Homo sapiens: one gene and its partners. The protein of the gene in region 1 purifies or fractionates together with the protein of each later gene. This does not show direct contact. Each region holds a gene or a part of one and is shown on either strand. Other genes may lie near its edges.

The links.
Region 2: the proteins of ACADSB (region 1) and SLC18A2 purify together in Homo sapiens (co-immunoprecipitation; one large-scale study listed by IntAct). This does not show direct contact.
Region 3: the proteins of ACADSB (region 1) and SCPEP1 fractionate together in Homo sapiens (co-fractionation; one large-scale study listed by BioGRID). This does not show direct contact.
Region 4: the proteins of ACADSB (region 1) and KDSR fractionate together in Homo sapiens (co-fractionation; one large-scale study listed by BioGRID). This does not show direct contact.

What each region holds. Positions count from the first base shown.
Region 1 is NC_000010.11:123,038,715-123,044,045, reverse strand, and holds part of ACADSB (short/branched chain specific acyl-CoA dehydrogenase, mitochondrial isoform 1 precursor), read right to left. Parts: intron 3,581-5,331; coding exon 3,374-3,580; intron 2,838-3,373; coding exon 2,667-2,837; intron 1,001-2,666; coding exon 875-1,000; intron 1-874. UniProt on the Homo sapiens protein: Short and branched chain specific acyl-CoA dehydrogenase that catalyzes the removal of one hydrogen from C-2 and C-3 of the fatty acyl-CoA thioester, resulting in the formation of trans-2-enoyl-CoA.
Region 2 is NC_000010.11:117,267,775-117,273,105, reverse strand, and holds part of SLC18A2 (synaptic vesicular amine transporter), read right to left. Parts: intron 3,036-5,331; coding exon 2,916-3,035; intron 2,777-2,915; coding exon 2,643-2,776; intron 1-2,642. UniProt on the Homo sapiens protein: Electrogenic antiporter that exchanges one cationic monoamine with two intravesicular protons across the membrane of secretory and synaptic vesicles.
Region 3 is NC_000017.11:56,980,292-56,985,622, forward strand, and holds part of SCPEP1 (retinoid-inducible serine carboxypeptidase precursor), read left to right. Parts: intron 1-790; coding exon 791-939; intron 940-5,086; coding exon 5,087-5,176; intron 5,177-5,331. UniProt on the Homo sapiens protein: May be involved in vascular wall and kidney homeostasis.
Region 4 is NC_000018.10:63,359,715-63,365,045, reverse strand, and holds part of KDSR (3-ketodihydrosphingosine reductase), read left to right. Parts: exon of another isoform or gene 1-1,353; intron 1,354-2,177; coding exon 2,178-2,267; intron 2,268-5,253; coding exon 5,254-5,310; intron 5,311-5,331.

The DNA of each region.
Region 1 (5,331 bases):
AAGATCTGCAAATACTTGCAAAAACAAGTGTAGTAAGCCTTTCTGCTGTTGAGACCATTCACCCTCATAAAAATCAACGGTGGGGTATATGTGTGTGTGCATGTGTGTACACAGGTGTATGCACAAGAAAGAGGAAGAGAGAAGAAACAGACTAAAATGCTTATTCATACTTTAAAAAAATAAAGAATTAAGAATAATAAAAAACTATACTTAGTTTTGTAATATGGGTAGTTGGGGGAGAGAGCAGGGAAGAATGGAGAAAGAAATGGGAAAGTAAGAATGAGGAAAACAGTTGGGGTGAAGTAATGAGGCCCCAGTGACATCTGTAAAGACATCCTCCCCCTCACTCCCCACAGCCATGCAAAAAAAAGATCAAGCTCTGTGATGAGTGGTGGAAAAGCCGACACCACCTGCCCCACCTACAGGGAGTTCTCCAGCATCAGCACTAACTATCTGGATCTTCTGCTGCTCACGTTTAATAGCCTGGCTGTTTCCGCTCTCACTGAGCAACACCCCCATCTTGTGGCCTTTAGTGCACTGACACCAGACTTCCTTCTCTGCGGCCCCATTTGGTTCACAAGTCTCAAGCTTATAAAGTATACGTGGTCAGAAGCACATAAGTTATAAAACATAAATGGGATGAATTCTTGGCACTTGCTTCCCAGGACAGCTTCTTGGCAGAAAGGTTTCCACTTTTGTGAAAAGTACATTTATCTGGTCATGACTAAAGAGCGCTGTTCAGGGTTTTACAAAATACTCTCCTGCGTGTGCTTATAGCCACTTAGTATTTTGACACCTGTCTTGCACACCTCCTGTGGTTCCATGCAAGGCTTATTTCGCATCAGTCTTTTACTGATTAGTCTACGATACCCACCTTGACATTTTCGAATGTTAACGGGCAGGTGGAAGAAGCTCTGAGCCCCAATTTGTTTTCAGGTTTCCCTATATGAAGGCCCGGAGTATCACGATCTACTAAGAAGGAGGTAATTCCCTTATATCCCTAAAAAGAAGAATTAAAACGCTATTACCACTTGGATTTATAAAACGCCTTGTTTCTGAAGAGTTTAAGTAAAAAGAAAACTAAAAATGGACTTTGGTAATAAATACTAATGGACTCAGAATTGCAACATGGGCATTATGAAACGAGAGCAGCTAGAGGACATTAGATCCAAACTATAGAACCTTACCATTTGTTTCACTTTTTCAGAGACCATCATAAATATTAAAATTATTATTACACTATTATATAATCATGAGAATGTCATGTTCTCAATTTAATTTTACTATATAAAGTTTTAGGCCAGGTGCGGTGGCTCATGCCTGTAATCCCAGCACTTTCGGAGGCTGAGTCGGGCGGATTACCTGAGGTCAGGGGTTTGAAACCAGCCTGGCCAACATGGTGAAAAAACGTCTCTACTAAAAATACAAAAATTAGCTGGGTGTGGTGGCAGGCACCCGTCAGGAGGCTGAAGCAGGAGAATTGCTTGAACCCAGAAGGCGGAGGTTGCAGTGAGCTGGGATCACAGCCTTGCACTCCAGTCTAGGCAACTAGAGCGAAACTCCGTCTCAAAAAAAAAAAAAAAAAAAAGTTTTAACAATTTAATTCAATTGTTACATTAGTGAAAATACTGTATTTACTGGTGAAAAAATGTATTTATTATTTTGCTATATGTCTATTTTCCAACTGAATAAAATATTCTTAAAAATAAATGTACTAAATAGGTACTTAAATTCTTCATTACTAAACAGAAATTGGAAATTCAACAAAATTAAAGATTAGGGCCAGGTGCAGTGGTTCACGCCTATAATCCCAGCAATTTGGGAGGCCGAGGCAGGCAGATCATCCGACGTCAGGAGTTTGAGACCAGCCTGGCCAACATGGCGAAACTCTGTCTCTACAAAAAATGCAAAAATTAGCTGTGCGTGGTGGTGCACACCTGTAGTCTCATATACTTGGGAGGCTGAGGCAGGAGAATCGCTTGAACTCAGGAGGAGGAGGTTGCAGTGAGGTGAGATCACACCACTGCACTCCAGCCTAGGAGATACAGCGAGACTCCATATTAAAAAAAAAAAAAAAAAGAAAAGAAAAAAGATTAGCTTCCTACATAACCCATTAGGAGCTAAGTAACAGTTGGTCCTCCACAAACAGTCATCCCTCCATATCTGTGGCGGAGTGGTTCCAGGACCCCCATGGATACCAAAATCTGACAGTGCTCAAGTACCTTACATAAAATGGTGTAATATTTGCATATAACCTATGCACATGCTCCGGTAGACTCTAAATCATCTCTAGATTATCTGATACCTAACATAATACATGCATGTCACTTTATTCACGTGAATTCAATATGGTAGTTGGCACAAAGCAAATTCAAGTTTTACTTTTTGGAACTTTGCAGAATTTTTTTTTAATCAAATATTTTCAATCCAGAGTTGGTTGAATCCACAGATATGGTGGGCCAATTCTAATTAATAATTTTGTCAACAATATTTACTTTAGGAGATTAACGAAGTGAAAAAATGCCAGCTCAAGTCTGACATTTTCAGTACTGAGAAGACTAAAGAGTTCAAGATGAAGTCCTAAAAAGGAAACAGAAGGAGGAAAAGATAAAGAAAGAGAAAAGAAGGGGTTTGGAAAAAGAAAGAAATTTCGTTTTCAAACTTACAATGGTAGGGTCTACATTTGCCATCACCAGAAAGAGCCCTGCGTGCTCAGCACTGCTGATCCACATCTTTGATCCATTGAGGACATAATAATCTCCCTCTTTATCAGCTCTGGTCTTCAAAGCAAATGAGTCACTACCTGCTCCAGCCTCTGAAAGGCAGAAACTTCCTACCTACATATGGGAGAAAAAAATGTCCAAATTAATAACTGTATTTATACTCTGTATAACAAATACTTATGGAAAAATGGACATTTGTAAATCAAATCTTTAGCTGCTTTTTTAAAAAGCCTATATTTATGAAAATAGCAATGGTATTCTGAAAGTATTATTTTCCAAAAAATATACCCTATTTGTCCAAGACAAATTTAAAGACTCACGAACACATACTCATTGAAATTGATTTGAATAATTACAGCAGAAAGACATCACAACGTAAATGAAACCATCAACAAACGTATTAGAAAATATAATCAGGACAAAAAGAAATAATTTTATTATCTGATGATTATTTTCTAAATTTCCAACTGGCAAATAAGAGGTAGAGTGTACTTTTCCAGCAGCATTAATTTATCAAGCATTGCTTGAATTAATGATACCGCATTGTGGTCTTGGATAGTAAAGTCGACATTGCAGCTACTTTTTTCCTGAAAATATTGTAAACTTACTAAAGATTAGATCCATTAGATCAACAATTCATCTCAACTCACTTTTTCTGTAGTGAGCTGAGGCAAATAGGTGGCCTTTTGTTCTTCTGTTCCATGTTTTCTAATCAGTGTGTTAATTAATGTGTTCTGGATCTCACAAAAGACAGCCACAGATGCATCAACTTTGGCTAATTCCTCTATCACGAGCACAGTGGATAAAAATGAAGCTCCTGTGCCTCCATATTCTGGGTCAACTTCAATACCCATCAACTAAAGAAAAAACAAGGCAACATAGATTAAGAAAGCTATTTTTATATGGGGAAATTTCTTGCATGAACAAGTTAAAAAATAAACTGTAACCATATTTATTATTATTATTTTTTTTTTGAGACAGTCTTGCTCCGTCTCCCAGGCTGGAGTGCAATGGCGCAATCTCAGCTCACTGCAACCTCCACCTCCTGGGTTCAAGCAATTCTCCTGCCTCAGCCTCCCAAGTCACTGGGATTACAGGTGCCCACCATCACACCCAGCTAATTTTTTTTTTTTTTTTTTAGTAGAGATGGGGTTTCGCCATGTTGGCCAGTCTGGTCTCGAACCCCTGACCTCAGGTGATCCACCCACCTCAACCTCTCAAAGTGTTGGGATTACAGGCGTGAGCGACTGTACCCAGCCACCATAATTATTCTTAATTTTAAAATTTTGTATTTATATTTTATTTTAATTTGGTATAGCAATTTTGCCATAAGTAACAAAAAAATCTGTAACAGAAACTGTATATTTGAAAAGGATAAAATTATATGCTATCATTTGCTTCCTTTTGGGATTCAAAAAATAATGAGAGGTAAAATGCTTTAAAGGGTAGCTTAATGGAATGAGAAAATATCTTATATACTTAGATGACCTTTCTTGCTAAGAACTGTTGTTGCCTGCTTAAAGCAGGTAGGTGGGGTTTTGATTTTTCAACATGCCCTACCCACCTTATGCTGATTTCAATGTAATAAGGAAACAGAAGAAAATAACCTACTCCTCAATGGGATGTCTATAGTTTCATTTGGCAAAGTTTCTTCTAGTCAGGCTCTTTCACCTTGACTTTTTCAGCCAAGTTAATAATTGAATGACCATTCCTTTTACGCCACTTCATAAGTTCAGGATGGTTAGCAGAGAACATGTGGTGGTGTTTGCTAGAGCCACACTAGCCAAAGCACGAGGGCCTGGTAAACACGACCAGTGCCAGCCAAGCCTTTCCAACGACCCAGTTCCATCGTTACTGAAACTCACATAGTACTCTCAATTTCACAAAGAGAATGTGTGCATGTGTAATTCAAAACCCACAGCTGCTAACAGAAGGATAATTCTCTTAGTCTCTCTCTAGACATTCCTGGAGTCACACTATGCTGCAGTCAGGGCTGTGGCTGTTACATTTTGGGCTACAACAGGAAAAGGGAACCAGAAATGCGAGCGACTGAATGGTGAGAAAACCAGAAACGAGGAAGAACGGAAGGATCTGGGTTTGCCTGAGAACTGAGGAGGGCACTCCGGAAACCTCATTACAATGACTCGAACAGATATCAGAGACATTGCTTCTCTAAAAAAGTCACTAATCTCTCCCAACGTGGAAATAGTGTTTTTGCAAGCCATTATGCCAAAAACCCAGGACAATGGGAGTGAGGAGGCAGGTGAGGCTGCATCTGCACAGGAGTGGTTTGTGGAGATGAGTAGCAGGGTGCAGGCAATGCATCACTCTGCAGACAGCCCCGCTGCAGGAACGACCACCGCGGGGGAGATCTCACACTGTGAAACCGTGAGACTGCTCCCAGAAGCCTAGAGGGTCTGCAAGCAATAGAAATAAAACCTGGCTGAGAAATGGACTCACAGAGTCCATCTGTTCTCCACATCGGCCTCCTGTTTGACCACTATGGTTCCACATAAGATTCCAGTTTCCTAAGAGTTTGACTGCTAAAAGAAAGATGGAAGAATCACTACTACACACGGTATAAAAAAGCTGGTTGCTTTAAAACAGA
Region 2 (5,331 bases), 5.8 Mb from region 1:
CAATATAAAACAGCTTAAGTCCAAACACCTTGTTATCAGGATGCTGTCTAATGGAAGAATGATTTGCTAAGGGTCGTATGCCTTCTGGCCCTCACATCCCCCAGCATTTGGCAACTGCTCATCCTGAACGCCAGCACTTGTCTGCTCTGGGGTTTCTCAACTGCATGGTCATTGATTCTTCCTCCTCCCTCACACACTGCTGTCCTGCCTGCATGCCCCCTTATCATTAGGTGCTGTCGGCCGCCACCGCTGGCTTCCTGCTCTGCTTGCACAATGAGTAGGCAGCAACTGCTGGCCACCACTCTCAAATGTCACCATTAGGCCAGTCAAATGGCATCCAATGTGATGCCTTCAATTATGGGCATCATTGATGGGCAGCGAGATGCACACCTTCTCAAGTTTTTAATGATTTATCTTGCTAGGTGCTTATTAAGGATTGTAACATCTTGCAGTGAAAGTGGCTTCCTGGAAACCTATAATTCTTACTGTTTGGCCTTTCAGGATCGTCTCTTCCACTTCCTTCAGCATTTTTTTAAAACATGAACTGAAGTATTCGTTTAAATGGGGAAAGAGGAGGGGTACTGAGGCCTGCCTTCTGCCAGTCCTTCTGCGGAACACAGTGGTAGTTGGCTGGGCAAGCACATTCTCTGCTCATCCTCTGACCTCATTCATTTCCCCAAGGCCACAGATAAGCCATCAGGCTGCCGTTCACAAACGGACATCACAACAGCCACTGATGTTTGCCGGCTTGGCAAGGGGAGCCCATTCAGGAGTTCTGGGGTCTGTATAGCAAAAGGAAACTCTCACATCACAGAGGAGGAAAAAGGGAGAAAATTCAGGTATTGCTGGACTGACGGGGGAAGCCAGAGAGTTAGATAAGCAGGAAAGAGTGGGGTGATATTGGAAATAGGAACACACTTTTTGAGCCACAGGGCCAGTCACTCTGTTGGGATTCTTTCATTTAATCCTCACAACAATCCTATGAGGTAGACGTTATCATTTCTCCATGCAACAGAGGAGGAAACCAAGACTCATAAGCCTCTACATGGTGGGGCCAGTGTGGCTCCCAGGCCCATGCTAGCCCTAACTATCTCCCAGGAGTCTTCAAACAGTTTCCTGGGCTACAGGAGCATTTGTAGGTGATTTTATACACACACACACAGACACACACAAACACATATACACACATATATACTTTTTTTGGTCAAAAACATTGAGTAACCTCCATTCAGCCTTAAACTGTTATCATGGCAACAGAATGGCAGTTTGCATTTGTGCTGAGAATTTTCTGACTCCATTTCGGCAAGGTATTATGCTAGGGTCAGCCAAGCAAAGATGCATCTGAAATTTACACACCCAAGCTGGAAAGCAGATGTCTCCTAAGAGAGGTCTGAGAAGGTGATGTGGTTTTCAGAGCTGGGGAAGCATCTAAGCAAGCGGAGGGAAGGACAAGGGGATGGCTTCTGTCTGAGTTATTTCCACAGCACCTTCCATACCTTTTCCATGAGTCAGACGGGCCATGCATTACTCAAAAGTATCTAGTTAAATCCTATTTAAAATAAAGGGCACAAGGCCAGTGCCCAGTGCTTGATATATTTTAAAATATGTGGAATGAATTAATGAATGTAAAAAACACCCAAGACAAACACAGGCTGCACATAACCTTATTTTAAGGTTTGTCTTTAAATCTCCTTTTGGGGAAAAGCATCAAAGGGCAGTTCAGGAAATGCCAAAGCATTAAGATGCATTCAGTTCCACTGTCAGAAAGACCTTCTGATGTACTTCCAAGAGAACATTACAAACAAACCTCACATCTATTCAAACACAAAAATGCATGTCCTCTTGTTCACCTCATTCATCCTTAATCCAAGACACTCTCCTTTCACCTGGACAAGTACCTATCAGCATTTGCTGTTTTAAAAACTGGCAACACCAGATAAGAAAGATGATCAGAAACACTGAGCGTCTCCTTGCTGGGTAAGGTAAATACCTTAGAAAGGTTAAAATGACTCATGCATTTCAAAATTCAAATTTTGAATCAATTAATTTGGACTTTTTCAAAAGAGGGATGCTTTATACTCTGTATCTTGCCTATGGCTATAATTTTGGTCATAAAGTTATGAATTAAATCGTTCTGTGTGTTCACATATACCCCAAAGTCCATATACAATGATTTTTCCATAAAAATCGTAAAATCATCTCTAAAATCCTACATACAGTAAAGACAAGACAGCAACTATTACTGAATGCTGTAAGGGTTATGAGAAAAGCAACAGCACCACAAATGGCTAACCTTGGGCATAAGTACAGGAGGCAGAAAGATTGTGTCCAAGATTTTCAAGAACCATAGAAAATCAAATTGAATGATTCCAGGTTTATACTTGGTCGACAAAAGAGCAACACTGATGCTAATCTATGTACAAAAATAATTTCATTCTCCCAGTTTATAAACATAAGCTTGAAAGAAATAACTTTCACAGTAATAAAAAAATAAAAGAAGTAACTGCTCTATGTGGTACAAACTAAAAAGGAATTCTCACCATTTATGTTTGAAGGCTTTAGAATGAAACCATGAGGAAGCTATCAGGAAGGCCATGCTAAAATTATCAAGAAATGCTCACTGCATCCTAAATTTTTCTTACCATTTTTTCTTCTTTGGCAGGTGGACTTCGAAGAAAAAAGCAGAGAGGGGCAAAAAGAATATCAATTATCCCAATAATTGTCATGAGCCATGGAAATCCAATTGCCTTTGCAATAGCACCACCAGCAGAAGGACCTTTCAGGAAACAGAGAATTAGATAAAGCTCTTCCAAATGTCTTGTAGACTGAAAGATGCAAAGATTTAAACAATTTTAGTAGACGTTATCCATTACGTATTGAGGTAAAAGGTTCTTATGAAAAGCCAATGTCCTTACCTATAGCATACCCCATACAAAATGCCACATCCGCAATGGCGTACACACTCCCATAGACGGACACGTGCCGCAGGTCTACGAGGTAGCCCATGATAGGCATCATTGACGAATCCACCATTCCTGAAGACAGTCAGGGAACACAGTGTATAGAAAACGGATGTAAACCCAAAATGGGCCGAATATCAGGGAGTGTGTCTTAAACTCACCACCCTGCCAGCTCTTCCCCTTCTGTCATCACCACCTGCAAGTCTTGGGGTGATACTAATCTTTGAGTAGAAAGAATGAAGGAAGCCTTTTCTGACCCCCAGAGGAGGTCAGGTTCCCCTCGTATACAGATGTTCTCTCACAGCATCATCTCAATTGTCATTCATTCTTCAATTCTTTGCTAAATGCCCAACTCTTCTGTTGGTTTTGTTCACCCATATCCCCAGCACTTGTACATATTAGGAAGCAGCAAGCACCATTTCAATGAAAGAAACTTTCCTCATGTGCCTGCCACTGACACATGTGGAGGGGAGGGCACCAACCTCTGAGTCCCTGCCAGTGTGTTCACAGACACTGGCTCACAGCAGCCAATCATGAGCATCCCCATTTTATAGATGAGGAAACCAATACTCAGAGAGGCGAGGCTTGACCACACTCACTGAGCCAGGGAGTCTGAGCCAGGAACTCTGAACACACACCATCTTTATGCTACCTGCTCCCCACTATTCAAGAGACGAGATTCTAATGCTGGTCGTGGTTGTTGCTGGGGTGTATGTCTGTATGTATATGTGTGTATTTATGAGTATGTATGTATATGTATATATGTATCTGTGTATGTCTATGTATATGTGTGTATGCATGTGTGTATGTGTATTATGTATATGTATATATGTATCTGTGTATGTATGTGTATATATGTGTGTACATGTGTTTGCATGTGTATGTGTCTGTGTATATGTGTTTGTGTATGTACTTGTATTTGTGTATGTGTGTGTATGTGTATGTGTGTAGGTGTGTGTGTATGTGTGTATATGTATGTGTGTATGTGTGCATATGTATGTGGGTGGGTGTTTGTATGTGTATGTGTATCTACGTGTATGTATGTATGCATATGTGTGTATGTATATTTGTGTATGTGTATGTGTTTATGTGGGGGGTGTATGTGTGTATGTGTGTGTGTATGCGTGTGTCAGTGTGTGTATGTGTGTTTGTGTGTATGAATGTGTGTGTTTGTGTATGAGTGTGTATGTGTATGTATGTGTGTGCATGTGTGTTTTAGCTTCTTTTAGTTCACACACATACACACAACACACACATACACACTCATACACACAACACACACATACATGGATACACATGCATACACACACACACACACATAAACATACATACACACACATAATTTCTGAGCAGGGCCAGATGATCTCTCGGACTCCTTGGAGTTCTGGGGCGTTCTGGTCCCCCCTATTATTCTCCACCTTGGAAACACCCATAGTCTAAGCGTGTGGCCCAGGTGTGACTGGCAGGAGGTGGGTCAGGCATGCAGGTGTGCTGAGTGGTGAGGGACAAGTGAACCAGAAAACAGCAAAGCAGGGAAGCACCAAAAGGATGCAGGCCAGGGGCCGTACAGTTAGCAACCTGCAACTCTGCCAGACCTGCAGAATGGCAAGGGGAGCCGCCAGAGGACTAGCACCCTCCCTAAAAAGATGGGCCAACCAGACAGTGGAGGACAAGGGGAGGCAAGGCAGAGGACAGGCAAACGGTCACCTGAGAAGGACCTAGAGTACCATACTGAGTTCTACCCCAGCCTCAGCAGCCTTCTACCATCTGTCCTCAGTGAAAGCCATGCTGTGCCACTGTACCACTCAAAGGTTGCGTTCCTGCTTCTACAGGGGTGGACTGAGCACTTATTTTTATCATGATCAATTGGTATATTATAAATAAGAGACAAAAGTATACCATTCACTCAAAATAGTGACAGATTTTTCCTAACATATTATCATTCTTAACATTACAAAAGCCCATCTCCTTGCCCATGGGAATTCCTGCAGCACAGGCGGTCATCAACACATTAGTCTGCTTTGTCTGTACTAAAACCTCTTCAAAATACATATGTGAAGCCTTTGCCCCCAGCCTCATGAGAAGACCTGCTCATAGGGAGGAGTCCACAAAAATGAGCTCTGTGCAAGGGATTCCTTTGTTTGCCCAGCCCCAGCAGTGGAGCATCAGTTTCCTTCTGTAAATATCAGCTTTTAAAAAATACTGGTTTTCAGGAAATAAATGACTAGTGCATAGAAGCAGGTGTCTTTACACGGAGAATCGACAGGCTGTAATTTAGCTAAGCTGCCTGCAGCCTCCTTCTAAGATTCTGGAAATTTAGGTTGAGGAACTACAGTCTACCAGAGGAAGAAGAACCCTTCCTAGTGGAAAA
Region 3 (5,331 bases), on another chromosome or scaffold:
TTTTGTAGAGATGGGGTGTTGCTATGTTGCTTAGACTGGTTTTGAACTCCTATGCACAAGCTATCAGCCTGTCTTGGCCTTCCAAAGTGTTGGGATTACAGGAGTGAGCCACCAAGCCTGGTGTCTTACTCATGTATTAAATACGATATAAAAACCAGTATATTGCATTCTGAGATTTTTACTTTTTTACTCAAAATATAAATCTCTCTTGTTTTTACAGAATTATAAAAGTATTTCCTGTAATCCCAGCACTTTGGTAGGCCTAGGCGGGCAGATCACCTGAGGTCAGGAGTGCGAGACCAGCCTGACCAACATGGAGAAACCCCATCTCTACTAAAAATACAAAATTAGCCAGGCGTGGTGGTGCATGCCTGTAATCCTAGCTACTTGGAAGGCTGAGGCAGGAGAATCGCTTGAACCCGGAAGGCAGAGGTTGCGGTGAGCCGAGATTGCGCCATTGCATTCCAGCCTGGGCAACAAGAGCGAGACTTCGTATCAAAAAAAAAAAAAAAAAAAAAAAAGTGTTTCATATTTATTGTTAAAAATCCAAACATTACAGAAAAGTGTAGAGGAAAAAGTGAAAGCCCCTGGCCTCCTATGCCGCTGTTAAGTTTGGTTTCTTTTTTCATAGCCGAGGTTTTTTCCTTATTCCTGCAATGTACTGGGGTGGCTAAATTACCAAACTATAAAACAAATCATCTCTAGCCTAGCATGGCTGTCTCTACCAGGCTTGGAATTTACCTGTACATTAGGCACTCTTCTGGAGAGTGAAATTGAACTTCTGTTTCAGGAGCTGTCATTGACTGGCCCACAGAGGAGGGCAAGGAAGTATGGGATTATGTGACGGTCCGCAAGGATGCCTACATGTTCTGGTGGCTCTATTATGCCACCAACTCCTGCAAGAACTTCTCAGAACTGCCCCTGGTCATGTGGCTTCAGGTAAAGTAGCTTCCCAGCCTGGCCTGAGGTCAAAGCCAAGTCTCCTCTGTGTGGCTCTTTGCTTGCTTTTTGGGCTGATGTCTCAGCAGTGAAGGGCGGATTTGGTCCAGCAGTGTGACCTGGGGGTTCGGCGTGCTTCTGAGGTAGGCTGAGGCAATGGTATAGCCAAGGAGGCTAAATCAGAGGGCGAGGGGGTTCTAGCCTTTTGCCAGAGTCTCTTTATATTTCCAGACGGTCACAAGAAGGCTCACTGAAAACTCCTGATGATACATTTGAATACATAGTGATAGAAAGTGTTTTGAGGCCGGGCACAGTGGCTCATGTCTGTAATCCCAGAACTTTGGGAGGCCGAGGTGGGTGGATCATACGAGGCCAGGAGTTCGAGACCAGGCTGGCCGACATAGTGAAACGCTGTCTCTACTAAAAATATTTAATACAAAAATTATCCAGGCATGGTAGCACATACCTATAATCCCAGCTACTCAGATGGTTGAGGCATGAGAATTGCTTGGACCCGGGAGGCGGAGGTAGCAGTGAGCTGAGATCGTGCCACTGCGCTCCAGCCTGGGCGACAGAGCAAGACCCTATCTCAAAAGAAAAAAGAAAAGAAAGTGTTATGGAAGGTTCCAAAGCAAAGACCTGAGGTAGCCTGACCCTCCCTTCCTCTCCATACAATCCTTTCCTGAACCCTAACTTCTTACCCCCAGAAAACCTGATCTTTTGAAGGGACTGCTACAAGCCTTCTGCACCTTCGTGTGACTGTTGCGCCTTCCCCCTTTCCCTGAGTGTGTTTGCATTTTAACCTTGAGCTCTGATTGTAGGATGGAAGGCAGGGAGCTGGTTGAAAGATTTGTAGGGACAGGCAGAGGCTCTTTTCTGGCATTTCTGAAATATCTGTCCAGAGATGGCCCACCCCCACCCGGAAGACCACCCACCAGGGAGGAATTAAGGAACATGGTCTTGCCTCTGGAAAATGTAGGCATGGCCCAGCTGGAACCCTGGGCCCCTCATCAGTAAATAGGGACCCTGGTGCTCACCTCCATAGGATGCTACTGGGACGTCTTCCAACAATGCTGGTATTTATAAGCAGCCTCCCACCACCTGGGTTTTGCCTCCCAGGATGGTCGATGCAGACTTTCTGGTGAGATAGAGCGAAAATGAGCAGTTTTCAGGGAGGGGCCTTTCTCTTTTGGAATTATCACTTGTGCCACCTCTGAGGGCTAGAGCTGAGGCTCAGCCCCAGGTGCGGTTATGATAATGCAGAAAAAGAACCCTTGTATGTCAGCCTGGGGAGCCCTGTTCACCTCCGGTGGCTGGAGACAAAGGTGCGGCACAATTGGCAGGGAGAGCCAGGCCGTGGACAAGCTCAGGCCTGCCGTCAGGGGCCTCGGGTTTTCAGTGCCTACCTGCCACTTAGAGCCATGGCAAGATACTTCCTCCTCTGGGCCTTGGCTGTCTAATCTGGGAGATTTTGGTGGTTTTCAAACTTTTTGTTCATCAGCAGAACTTTTCTTTTTTTTTTTTACCCCCAAATGAAAGCTTACAAAGGGGAGACAAAGCAGACAAAAGCACAAGTGCTGAGGCTGAGGCTTCTCCTTTGAAGTTTATCAACTGAAGAGAATAAATTGCTCTTCACTTACCCAGAGACCCAAGAGAGAAGAAGAAAGATTATGCTTACAGAAGAAATAACTAATTTAGATGAAAAGGAGATCTATTTTAGCAGCCTACTGAGGACATGGTGCTGACTTCTCTCGGGGGAATCTTTGAGAATCGAAGTCATGTCTTCTGAGTGGGTTAGCAAACTATGTTAGGGACACTTTCAAGTCTTCGAAGCGTTTCACTTGGTCCACTGACACACTGACTGTGTCTCAGAGTTTCTGGATAGCCCTGGGCCATGCTAGCACCCTATCCCAAAGTTCTAGACAAAAAAGAGGTTTTACAATAGGATATATTCACGTAGAACAGAGGCTTCCTCCATCCAGCATCTCATTGCCTTTTGAGGAGAGGGGAATGAGGAGAGAGGAGAGGGAGAGGTCATCTTCTGCTGTCTCCCTGGCATACCAGAAGCAGAGGAGAACTGAGATTTCTCCCACAAAGACCCAACCCCTAGGATTTCCAGCTTTTCTCCTTTTGCTTTGATCCTACCTCATCCTAATAAGTCCATTAGGAAAAAGGAACCCAGCTTTCATTGGAGGGTAGATCCCTGGCTTTAATTTATTGCATATTGCATTATAAATATTTTTCAATGTTGCCACATCATTTTTCGTAGTTCATGATTCTAAGTGGCAGTGTAGCATTCCATGCAGTAGATGTGGTATGGTTGCCTAACCTGTTCCCCTATTTGGGGGACGTTTGAGTTGCACCCTTACTTCTGTTATTTTTAATAGGACTGCGGTTAACATCTTCATCTGGTTTGTGAACTTTTTACTGCTTAGGAAATCTTAAGATACAAAGGGCATATGATCAGGGGGATGTATAGCCTTCCAATTTTATCAGAGTTAGGTTGGTCCAGGTTCAAAACATTAGTGTTGTAAAGTCTTTCCCTTTTGGGGCCCTCTTGCCGTTGCTAGTTACCCTTTAGCCCTGACTCTATCTTGTCTTTTTTTTTTTTTTCTTTAGATTTCCCTACACAAATTGCCCTGGCTTTTGTTTTGCCCAAGGTATTCCCTTTCATCTTTTTTTTCTTTTTCTTTTTTGAGATGAGGTCTCGCTCTGTCACCCAGGCTGGAGTGCAGTGGCGCAGTCTCGGCTCACTGAAACCTCCACTTTTTGGGTTCAAGTGATTCTCGTGCCTCAGCCCCCCGAGTAGCTGGGACTACAGGCGCACGCACCACACCCGGCTAATTTCCTGTTCTTAGTAGACGCAAGGTTTCACCATGTTGGCCAGGGAGGACTTGAACTCCTCTCGAACTCCTGACTTCAAGTGATCTGCCTGCCTTGGCCTCCCAAAGTGCTGGGATTACAGGCGTGAGCCACCGCACCCGGTCCCCATTTCGTCTTTTCATATCTCCCTTTCCTACCCATCCTGCTAGTGCACAGAGAGGCCATATCCTTTTATTCTAGGTCCTCTGCCCTTTCCCTCGCCTCAGCTGACAGGGCCCTTCTCATAGACTCCCCACCTCAATTGGCCCCTGGATTTGTCCAGAAAAAGCACTGACCATCTTTTCCCCTGACCACCTCCCAAAGAGCCTCCTCTTGTCTCAATTAGAAAGCCCACCCAACCTGTCCTATTTGCCTCTTAGTTTCTTTTTTCTCTGAAGCCCTCAGAGCCCATAGAACTGCCCCCAACACCGAGCTGTGGTTCAGAATCCTGCCTTTCCCTCTCCCATGGATGCTCACAGTATCAAACTCTCCCTGCCCTGGGACTTTAGAAACTGCTGCATTATATCCACAGAATCTGCTTGATCAAACTGCTTCTAAGTCTGGGTCCCTTATCAATCCACAGGGACTCTGAAGAGTCTCCCATCTCCTGGGGAGAGGGTGATGGAGGAAGAGTCAGAAGGCCCAGTGTCTAGTCCGGTTAGAGCTCCTTCAGGTCAGCAAGGCCTACGGCAGGCCAAGGCTCCAGCTCAGAAAATCAGGAGGCAGCTGGGTGTGATGGCTCACACCTGTAATCCCAGCACTTTGGGAGGCTGAGGCGGGAGGATTGCTTGAGCCCAGGAGTTTGAGACCAGCCTGGGCAACATGGTGAAACCTCACCTCTACAAAAAATACAAAAATTAGCCGGGCTGGGCATGGTGGTGTGCGCCTATAGTTCCAACTACTTGAGGGGGCTGAGGCGGGAGGATCACTTGAACCCCAGAGGTAGAAGCTGTGGTGAGCCGAGATTGCACCACTGCACTCCAACCTGGGTGACAAAGTTAGACTCTGTCTGAAAAGAAAAGAAAAGAAAAGAAAAAATCAGGAGTCAGGAACATTCCATTGTGGACCTCTTAGCTCAGCTCTGCTCCTTTCAGAGAAAAACCTCAGCAGTTACTAGGGGAGCTTTGCTAATGTGGAAGTCCCTGGTTCACTAGAGAAATTGTGTCTTTTGTGCAAATTGACCCAGCCATCACTAACTCATAAACCATCTATAGCAAATGTGGTCATTCATTGTAAAGACTAAGATCTGACTAAAATTTTTGTTTGTTTCTTCTCTCTTCCATAGGGCGGTCCAGGCGGTTCTAGCACTGGATTTGGAAACTTTGAGGAAATTGGGCCCCTTGACAGTGATCTCAAACCACGGAAAACCACCTGGGTACAGTGAGGACAGTCCTGAGCTAAACCTTGCCCCGTGGCCTCTCAGAGGCCCTGCCCAACTCTGGGAGGGGCCACAAATGTAGCAATCCCTCGCTGTCCTTTTCCTTTTCCTGTGACTACTGAGGCCATGGGCACTTGTCCGCAGGCTTCCTC
Region 4 (5,331 bases), on another chromosome or scaffold:
CTATGAGTCCCATAGAGGTAGGTGCATTTGCGTAGGAGACACTTCCCAATGATGTTAAAATCCTAACATGGAGTCAGAGATCTTCCTCCCAGCATGATTTATGTATAACAGTGAATATTAGGAAAAATCTAAATGTCTGGTTATAGGGAAACGTTGAAGTTTTGATGCAGCTATTTGATGAAGTATTGTGAAACCTTTTCGTTTTTTGACAAATAAGACATTACAATATAATTTTTTAAAAACAGGAGACAATACTATGCAATATTATGTAATTTGCATAGGGACAGTGACTAGAACGATATGGCCGGGTACAGTGGCTCACTCCTATAATCCCAGCACTTTGGGAGGTCAAGGAGAGTGCATAACTTGAGGTCAGGAGTTCGAGACCAGCCTGGCCAACATGGTGAAACCCCATCTCTACTAAAAATACAAAAATTAGTTGGGCGTGCTGGCGCACGCCTGTAATCCCCACTACTTGGGTGTCTGAGACAAGAGAATCGCTTGAACCTGGGAGGCGGAGGTTGCAGTGAGCTGAGATCGTGCCACTGCACTCCAGCCTGGGTGACTGAGCAAGACTGTCTCAAAAAAAAAAAAAGAAAAATAATGTTGCATTGTTCACTTATTCAGTGAAATATATAATATATATTGAGCCCTCCCCAGGCTAAGTGCTAGGAATATAGTGGAGAACAGAAAAATAATTGGTATTTTTAATGGAGTTTATGGGTAGGTGATAGGAGAGGTGGTTGTGAATCAGATAATCACACAAATAAATCTAGAGCTGTTTATTATGTGCATGTCATAAAGAAGAAATACAGTGCTGAAAAGTGTGTCAGTGTGGGGGCAGGGGAGACAGTGAAGGCTTTCCTGAGGAAGTGGTATTTGAGCTGAGATTTGATGGGCGAGTAGGTGTCAGATGAAGTGGGGAGAAGAGCATTCGTTGCAAGGGAAGTAGGATGTGCCAAGGTACTGTGGTTGGAGGGTTTTTACAGTAATCTTCTGCTGATAACTGGCTGATTACCCACCAAATAAATCTCTTCAGTGGTGGCAGGTTGAAGCTAAAAAGAAGTAAGGGATGCCTATGAGTCCCATAGAGATAGGTGCATTTGCGTAGGAGACACTTCCCAATGATGTTAAAATCCTAACATGGAGTCAGAGATCTTCCTCCCAGCATGATTTATGTATAACAGTGAATATTAGGAATAATTCCATAATTGAAAGCCAGTATAGCTGAACTGTAGATAGGGGTAGAATAGTGCAAGAAGAGCTTTACTTTTCAGGATTTCCTTGTGATTGTATATTACTTTTATACTAAGCAGTCATTTCAAATAAATATTCAGGTGGCCATTCTTTTCATCTGTTGTAGAGCTAATCTTGCATAAATGTGCATTAAGAAAATAAGATTCAACCAACCCAAATGTCCAACAATGATAGACTGGATTAAGAAAATGTGGCACATATACACCATGGAATACTATGCAGCCATAAAAAATGATGAGTTCATATCCTTTGTAGGGACATGGATGAAATTGGAAACCATCATTCTCAGTAAACTATCGCAAGAACAAAAAACCAAACACCGCATATTCTCACTCATAGGTGGGAATTGAACAATGAGATCACATGGACACAGGAAGGGGAATATCACACTCTGGGGACTGTGGTGGGGTCGGGGGAGGGGGGAGGGATAGCATTGGGAGATATACCTAATGCTAGATGACACATTAGTGGGTGCAGTGCACCAGCATGGCACATGTATACATATGTAACTAACCTGCACAATGTGCACATGTACCCTAAAACTTAGAGTATAATAAAAAAAAAAAAAAGAAAAAAAAAAAGAAAATAAGATTCATTTGGATTTGGAATCAGAGGCAGACTAATGTATTATTTATGAGCTAGACTTATAGGGCACTTTTCCACCAGTGAACTCAGAAAAATATTATAGGTGTGCAATTTATGGTTCCATAAGAAAACAGTCAAAGCAGCAGGCCTTGCTGATAGTATCTTTCATGCTTACACTTACTCCAGTCATTAAGTTTGGGATGAAGAAGTTAACAACAGCTAATCATTTAGTTCTTGTAGATTCATTTTAAGAGCCTGTCATAGTTGTTTTTTATAAAAACTTCCTACAGAGGGGAGATTTCAAGTGCTAAGAATATTTTATGATTTTGTTTTAGGTTACAGGAGGTTCCAGTGGCATCGGGAAGTGCATTGCTATCGAGTGCTATAAACAAGGAGCTTTTATAACTCTGGTTGCACGAAATGAGGTAAGGCTTCTAGGTTCATTATTACTGACTTGCTTCTTCGACTTGAAATTAGTCAAAGAGGCTGTGCTAAACATCTTAGCATTCACACCTAGAAAGCGCTTCTTCCTTGATGTGAGATGTGTTTCCTGAACTACTGATTCTCTCTAGTATTTAGGCCAAACACTTCTCTGTTGAAATCAGGTCGGCCCCACAAGTATTTATTTAGTACCATTGGCATATTAGGCAACATCATCATAGATACTGCAGATCCTGAGATGGGAGAGGCCAAGGTCTAGTTGAAGGAGCACACCTGGCCATTGGAAGCCAGGGAGGGCCCTTGGCCAGGTCAGAAGTGCTGGAAGCAGTGATTCTGGAGCTGATACCTGAAGGTGTGTAGGTGTTTCTCTATAATTTTTCACTACGATTTGCTTAGGACATGATATATATCTCTAGTGAAATCTATACACCATAGAGGAACCTCGTCCCTCCTTAGAAGTTTAGCAAAATGTGTTTTTCTGTATTAAGTCAACACAGAATCTGTTTTTATTTTTTGTCAGGGTTTGTTTTTGTCTTGCCAAAGTTGTTTTTAGAGCACAAAGCAGTGACACTGTGCACGTGAACTGTCATGACGTCCTCTTGCTCCCCATATGGGGACTGGAGGAAAGTGACCACACAGCTGGCTCGTCCGCTGCAGCAATTCTAGTGCTTGACACGTAGTACATGCTCAGACATGTTTGTTGAATGAAGAAATGAAGGGAGGAATGATGGAGTGCCTGGGAATGTCAGCATGGCATACTTCCATGGGGATCTTGGATTCACCCATGTGCAAGGAGGGTGATAGTATGGTAACTCCTCAAATGGGTGGAGGGCTGGACAGGACCCATTAGGAATGGTAGGCCAGGAAGGGCCTTGGGGGAAAATTTAAATAATGTCGCAGACTTAGTCTTGGACCTCTATAATTTCTTTTATTTTTTTCTTTTTTCTTGAGACAGCATCTCACTCTGTTGCCCAGGCTGGAGTGCAGTGGCATGATCTCGGCTCACTGCAACCTCTGCCTCCTGGGTTCAAGTGATTCTCCTGCCTTAGCTTCCTGAGTAGCTGGGACTACAGGCGCCCACCACCACGCCTGGCTAATTTTTGTATTTTTAGTAGAGACAGGGTTTCACCATGTTGGTCAGGCTGGTCTGGAACTCCTGACCTTGTGATCCGCCCGCCTTGGCCTCCCAAAGTGCTGGGATTACAGGTGTGAGCCACCACACCTGGCCTGGACGTCTATAACTTCTTTTGCAAACCAAGAAAGACAAAATTAGCTACCTTTTATTTATAGCTTGACTTTTCTAACAATGAATTTGCTTTGGCATTGAAGCCACCTTACATAAATGAAAACACAAATTTGATGAAATGGCATTTTGTGAGTTTTAAACACCAGTTTTGATGCAAGTAAATAAAAGTGGAGGCAGAGAAGGCCAGCATTTCAGGCCCCCAGGAGCTCATATGGGGCCCTTGCATTGCTAGAAATGAATGAACTGAATGAAGAACCTGTGGTGTTGAGTAATTCATTCTTTTTTTTTTTTTTTTTTTTTTTTTTTTGAGACGGAGTTTTGCTCTGTAACCCAGGCTGGTGTGCAGTGGCGCTGTCTTGGCTCACTGCAACCTCCACCTCCGGAATACCTGGGATTACAGGTGTGTGTAACCACACCTGGCTGATTTGTGTGTGTGTGTGTGTGTATATATATTTACATATATATAAAATATATATTTTTATTATATATATTATATATTTTATATATATATATATTTTTTTTTTAGTAGAGACAGGGTTTTACTATGTTGGCCAGGCTGGTCTCAAACTCCTGACCTTAAGTGATCCACCCACCTCGGCCTCCCAAAGTGCTGGGCTTACAGGCGTGAGCCACTGCGCCCGGCCTCACTGTGTCACCCAGGCTGGAGTGCAGTGACACAATCTCGGCTCACTGCAACCTCCGCCTCCCAGGCTCAACCAATCCTCTCACTTCAGCCTCTTGAGTATCTGGGACCACAGGTGCTCGCCACCATGCTTGGCTAAGTTTTTGTATTTTTGGTAGAGACGGGGCTTCACCATGTTGCCCAGGCTGGTCTCAAACTCCTGAGCTTGGGTGATCCACTCACCTTGGCCTCCCAAAGTGCTGGGATTACAGGGGTGAGCCACCATGCCTGGCTGAGAAATTCTTTCTTTTCTAATGTAATTTTTAATTCCAGTCTTTGCAAAGTCAAGCTGTATGTATCTTTAGTCATAGGACAATATTATTTCATTATAGACATATTCAGGTTTAGAAACTCTGCATGCCTTTTGGAAGAATTCGCCTCTCCTTTGGTTCCTCTCTATTGCATGATATTATTTAAGTTACTTTTTACAGCAAATTAAGATAATCTGATATCTGTTTTCTTGAGACTAAGTAAAACAAACAAAATTAGGACCTTGGAAGAATTACATAATTACACAGGTAACCTTGCTTAAGAGTATTTTATAGTAGCCAGGCCTAGTTTACCCAGTCTATCCAGAAAGTGATTCTTACTATGTTTGGGTTTATAGTAGAAGAAGAAAATATTGGACAAAAAGCAGTATTGACAGGGAGTCACACATACCCTCAACTTTGGGGAGCAGTACATATTAATAGAGTTGTTCTTGTCTTATATCACAACTAAATAATAAGACATTTATTAGAACTGTAGAGTCAGCCTCAGCAATTAGTACTGTTAACTGGGATTTTGAGGTTTATCTGTTTTCTACTATCTTTCTCTAATTAATTTTCAAACTTTTATCACTTATTCATAGCTTAACATACTTCACAACTTCTTTCTTTCATAGGCTGTGGCCCAGTCTGTCTATGCAATGTAGATACTGTTTTGTGTGTTTTCTGGAATTTAATACATACATATAGAAATAATTGCTTTTTTTCTCTCCTTTGCAATAAACGGACATGCATATAGACGGTCATCACGACTAATTATTCTGTATTGCTTTCAGGATAAGCTGCTGCAGGCAAAGAAAGAAATTGAAATGCACTCTATTAATGACAAACAGGTAAATCTCTGTCTTCAGAAT